Regions from separate parts of the Homo sapiens genome. Here region 2 is linked to region 1. Evidence: fine-mapped expression QTL. A gene starts in region 1. The other region holds a variant in brackets. All regions are shown on one strand. Distances are between the middles of the regions.

Region 1 (2,912 bases):
GCTGAGGCAGAATTGTTTGAACCCAGGAGGCAGAAGTTGCAGTGAGCCTAGTCCAGAAGTTGCACCACTGGACTCCAGCCTGGGTGACAGAGTGAGACTCCGTCTCAAAAAAAAAAAAAAAAAAAAGAATTATACAGTAAGTCAGTACCATATCAATATTTGGAGCACAGGGTTTTATACCATAAATCTATTATTTTCATTCAGATAAATCCTCCTCTTTCTTCTTTTTGGGGAATCTTTTAAAAAATTTTTAATTTAATTTGAAGTTCCAGGATACATGTGCAGGACGTGCAGGTTTGTTACATAGGTAAACGTGTGTGCCATGGTGGTGTGCTGAACCTATCAACTTATCACCTAGGTATTAAGCTCTGCATGCATTAGCTATTTATCCTGATCTGGTAATCTTTTGAGTCTGTAAGTTTTCTCATTCCAGTAACCTCTGCTGTTCCTGAGATAGTGCAAGATTCTAGTATTTTCTTCTATTAAAAAATTTTTTTTTTGAGACGGAGTCTAACTCTGTCACCCAGGCTGGAGTGTAGTGGCATGATCTTGGCTCACTGCAACCTCTGCTTCCTGGGTTGGAGCAATTCTCCTGCCTCAGCCTCCCGAGTAGCTGGGATTACAAGTGTGTGCCACCATGCCCGGCTAATTTTTGTATTTTTAGTAGAGACGGGGTTTGGCCATGGTCTTGAACTTTGGCTGGTCTTGAACTCCTGACCTCAGGTGATCCACCCACCTCGGCCTCCCAGAGTGCTGGGATTACAGGCATGAGCCACTGCGCCCGGCCTAAAACGTTTTTTTTTTTTTTTTTTTTTTTTTTTTTTTTTTTTTTTACCACTTTACCAACGTGCCAAATAATAGTGCATATATGCAGTATAATACATTTCATATCTGCACCTACTTCAAAGTGTATTCTGCCCTTTGGGATAAGCCAAAGGTGAGCTAATATCTGCACATGATTTGTTTTGCTCAGATTCTCTTTGAAAACTTGTAGATTTGATGGGTGTTGTGAGTAAAGAAGACGGACATCTCTTCGATACCCGTATTTCCCTCCTAAATTGGTAATGCTGTGGTGACATATTCAAGGTATGTGAAGGATTCTTAAACAGAATATAAAGGCTTGCCCTGGGCCCCATAACCCTGTGAGAATAAAAGTCCCTTTGTAAGTGGGTCTGAATAGCTTCTAGCTTCTAGGATGTTCTGTGCATTAGAATGCTTACAAGCTTTGGCCCCCTAAGTGGTTACACCGATGACCACCCTATCATGCTGGGTTCCGTGGTGAACTGAGAGATGCCATTACCTTTCACCGCCCTTGGCCGGACACTCACGGTGGGCCTAACTCCGGTGGTAATTCCATCCCTCACTGCGGGACCTTGACATCCCCGAGCTGAAGCCCACTTCCTCCCTGACCTCTGGAGCCCAGCTGAGCGGCTCCGAGAGCTCTGCCATGACTCCTAACCGGGTGGACAGGGGGGCCGGGCAGCCGCGGCGCACACGCTGGGCGTCGTCCCTAGCAGCAGAGGAGACCAGAAGGTGAGAGTCCCCATGCCGCAGCCGGAGGGCCGGGGTGGGCTTGCACCGCTATCGCGAGAGCTCGTGAGGTGGGGGCGGCGGGGAGCTGGGGAGGGGCTCGCGGAGAGCCTGCCCCGCCTCCCTTTCCTTCCCCTCCCCTGGAGTGATTCAAGACGAGCGCTACCCACTTCCGCCCCCTCCCCCTGCCATTGGAACTAGCTGAGCCGAACTAGTTGCGGCCACCGAGCAGCCGGCTCTCGGCACCTCCTCCTCCGCCTCCCTGTCTCCTGTTCCATTCGCCTTTCCTCTTCTTTCCTGGCCCACGCCGCTCCGAGGCCTCGCGACCGCCGAGCCTGCAGCCTGCCCCGCGGCCAACATGAGCTTCTTGTTGTGAGTAGCCAGGCCCCGCACGCGCCGGCTTTGTTCGGGTGGACCTGGGCCCCCGCCCGCCGCCCGCCGCCCGTCGCCCGCCCTCGTCCCGACCCTCCTGGCCCAGCGCTCCCGGGGCCCGGCGTCACCACCAAGCGGGGCCCCGGGACTGCGCGGAGCGCTCGGACTACCTAACCGCCGCCTCCCCATAGGGCTTCGAGTACTCGTGGGCTCCTGCAGCCCTGAGGAGGTTCTTCCCCCCCGGCACACCCCGGGGCCAGCGCCTGGATTCCTTCATCACCCCCGTCTCTGCCTTCGCTCGCATTCCCGGGCTTGTTTGTGCGCTTCTCGTGGGTATCTCCCACTCGCCTGCACAATCCGTATCCAAGCGGTGCTCGGTTGAATGGCTCCGTCGCGGCTGCCCATTGCTCTTTTCTGGGTCCCAAGCACAGAAGATAAGACTGTCGTACTTTCCCCTGTCATCCCAGGACCCTTTTAACTTCCTCTCTCGTCTTAGGGCTGGGAAGTTGGGATGACAAGTTCTGTAGATGTAACACTGAAACAAGGCTACTTGCGGGTCGGGATCCCTTGGACACAGACGGGGGTCCCTGAGAAAGGGGTCTGGAGCCGCCCCCTTGCTTCCTAGAGGCGCCCTTCCTCCCAGAGGACTTCCCTGAAGAGGATGAGTTTTATCTTTTTAGACAACCAGCAAATAGGTTTTGGATAGTGTGCCCTGCCTAGGTTGATTAGGTCCACTGGGGAGTTGTTTTGAAAATCATTTGTAAATGCCAACTTTGGCGTCATGTTTAGTGCTGGTCATTATTTCACTTACTTATCGTTTGTTCCAGACGAGTGGAGGGGAACGTGGAGGGGGAAGGGCAGAAGGATGGGATGGCCAGATGTGGATATGGAGGCAGTAGATAAGCCTCAGGTCCTCTGAAAACAGGGGTTACAGCCTGAGGAATAACTCCTTTGAAGGCTTCGTTGTGATGCACTCATTCCATGTTTAGTCTGTGTTTAGAAAACTAATA
Region 2 (2,912 bases), 50 kb after region 1:
TTGAACCCAGGAGGCGGATGAGCCAAGATCGGGTCACAGCCCTCTAGCCTGGGTGACAGAGCAAGTCTCTGTATCAAAAAAAAAAAAAAAAAAAAAAGAATGGTCTTTAGAGATTTAAATCCTGGATTTAAATTTTGGCTCCTTAATTTACCACTTTTATAATCTTGAGCAGAGTATGTAAGTACTTTAAATCCTTAGATTTGTCATCCATAAAATAAAGAAAAATAATAGCTTGTATATCAGAGTTACTAGGATTAAATGAGATATATTGCATGTAAAATAGTTGCGAGTACAAAGCTTGCGGTAAATGTTAGTTAATATTAATCATCATTATTATCCTGATGTAGGAGTTCTCAGCCTGAAGTTGACTGGAACTTTCAGTTAACAAGTATTTATCGAATACCTGATCTGTAGTGTTGGACTTAGACCTATGGAAGGAGCTACTGATGTGAATGAAAGGTTAGTACCTAGAGGCGGAGCAGAGAGAACTAATAGTAGTGAAGTTCTTAACATAAGTTTCAGTAGTAAGGTAGGTATTATTATCTCCATTTTGTAGACGAGGAAGCTGAGACTCAGTAACAGTAACTTCTTCGAGACCCTGGTTCTGTCATTTAGCTAGCTGTGGTTAGACTAATAACTCACTTAACCTTGAAGAGATGGAGCTGTTGGCACAAATACATGATTTGTAACACAAATCATTTATTTTACAATCATTTGTGTGACAAATAATTTGCTTTTAATTTTGAATAAATTTACATATTCTTCAGTGTCAATATATAGGTATCTGGTACAGAAAAAAAATAGGGGTAATACAACAAAAACAAAAACTGTTAGGAACTGGGCCTCACAGCAGGAGGTGAGCAGCCAGCAAGCAAGCATTTCCACCTGAGCTCTGCACCCCGCCAACCCCTGTGGAAAAGTTGTCTTCCGTGAAACTGGTCCCTAGTGCCAAAAAGGTTGGGAGCCACTGTTTTAGAGTCTCAAAGAGAAAATAAATGATACTGAAATTTGCAAAAGATAAATCAAATTGGAAGACTAAGAGATATGTATTCAGAGCTATCTCTAGGACTGAGTTGTTTACTAGACAAATCACCCTGTCCTGCTCTAAAAATTGATTTGCCTTCAAATATGAGTAAGAATGGGAAAACAAATGTGAATATCGTGGATGTTTATTTGGAAAGCAGTAGAGTAATGCAATGAATTATTAATGTGATACCTCTAATATGTAATACATCATTCACATTCTAGTCAGCATTCCATAGTGGCTGAGCATGGTGGCTCAAGCCTGTATTCCCAGCACTTTGGGAGGCCAAGATGAGGGGATTGCTTGAGCCTAGCAGTTCGAGACCAGCTTGGACAACAAAGTGAGACCTCATCTCTAATAAAAATACAAAAAATTAGCTGGGTGTGGTGGCGTAGTCACAGCTACTCAGGAGGCTGAGGTGGGAGGATCACTTGAGCCATTGATCATGCCCCTGCATTCCTGCCTGGGCAATAGAGCAAGACCTTGTCTCAAACAAACAAAAAAACAAAGCACAACATTCTCCATAGTTATGATGCTGTGTTGGAAGCTGTACAAGAGAAATTAGCAATCTAATACCTGTCCTTTAAGACTTTCGTACGTTGTGGCTGCTCCCATA[T/C]GTTGTTAATGGGATTGTAAAAGGGTACAATTTATTTGGGGAAAAAATAGGCACTATATAAAATTTAAAAATGTAACTGCTCTTTAAAACAACAGTTCTAGGAATTTAACCTTCATACATGCGTACACACAAGGATGCTTACTGCAGTGTTGTTTGTGGTAGCAGATGACTGGAGGAAACAATCTAAATGTTTTAAATAAAGGACTGATCAAACTATATTATAATATAATATATATAAGGAAATACTATTTCAGTCTTTAGAAAGAATAAAGTAGATTTACTTGTATCTTAAATATAACAGTCTTCTGGATATGTTAAGTGAAAAACATTATTAAGTACACTATGCTACTGTGTAAAAGCAAATAAAAACAGGCACAAAACTTTCTAATGCCTGTAATCCCAGCACTTTGGGAGGCCGAGGTGGGCGGATCACGAGGTCAGGAGATCGAGACCATCCTGGCTAAAATGGTGAAACCCCGTCTCTACCAAAAATACAAAAAATTAGGTGACCGTGGTGGCGGGTGCCTGTAGACCCAGCTACTTGGGAGGCTGAGGCAGGAGAATGGTGTGAACCCAGGAGGCGGAGCTTGCAGTGAGCCAAGATTGTGCCACTGCGCTCCAGCCTGGGCGACAGAGCGAGACGCCGTCTCAAAAAAAAAAAAAAAAACAAAACAAAAACAAAAAAAAAACTTTCTAATGCTTATACCAGATACTAGAAACTGTAATTTCTTCTGAGGTAGGTGGGGTAAGAGGGCAGCATACTTTATGTTTTTGAAAATTTTTGTGAAGATTTGTATTTGTATGTCTTAAAATATGTGAGATGTATGCATTTGGGCATACAGTGTTGCTACAAGAGCTTGTACTCACTGATGAGGACTTCTGTGTACATGCTTGGGTATTTATGCTTTTGAATTTGAAGACTCTGTCATTTTGTCATTTGGTCTTTTTTTTTTTTTTTTTTTTTTTTTGAGTTGGAGTCTCGCCCTGTCGCCCAGCCTGGAGTGAAGTGGTGCAATTTTGGCTCACTGCAACCTCCGCCTCCTGGGATCAAGCGATTCTCCTGCCTCAGCCGAGTAGCTGGGATTACAGGCGTCTGCCACCATGTCCGGCTAATTTTTGTGTTTTTAGCAGAGATAGGGTTTCACCATGTTGGCCAGGCTGTTCTTGAACTCCTGACCTTAAGTGATCTGCCCGCCTCATCCTCCCAAAGTGCTGGGATTACAGGCATGAGCCACCTTGCCTGGCCTGTCAGTTGGTCTTTTGACCTGCGAA

Evidence for each region. PIP is the estimated chance that this variant, and not a neighbour inherited with it, causes the effect.
Region 2: its variant is fine-mapped to the expression of MOB1B in blood mononuclear cells (TOPMed, PIP above 0.99). The same link has a PIP of 0.9 or more in non-classical monocytes and whole blood.

Annotation. Positions count from the first base shown.
Region 1 is chr4:70,900,649-70,903,560 of GRCh38, forward strand. It overlaps MOB1B (MOB kinase activator 1B), which reads left to right and starts at 1,721. Exons shown (of 6, transcript NM_173468.4): 1 at 1,721-1,902. The coding sequence starts at 1,889. It overlaps LOC124900711 (a long non-coding RNA gene), which reads right to left and starts at 1,583. Exons shown (of 2, transcript XR_007058132.1): 1 at 1,301-1,583. RefSeq lists silencers at 1,541-1,690, 2,001-2,050.
Region 2 is chr4:70,950,353-70,953,264 of GRCh38, forward strand. The region is part of intron 1 of MOB1B (MOB kinase activator 1B); the gene reads left to right. Among named protein-coding and RNA genes, the nearest start is that of DCK, 42 kb to the right of the region's middle. The variant T/C (reference allele first, on the strand shown) is at 1,641.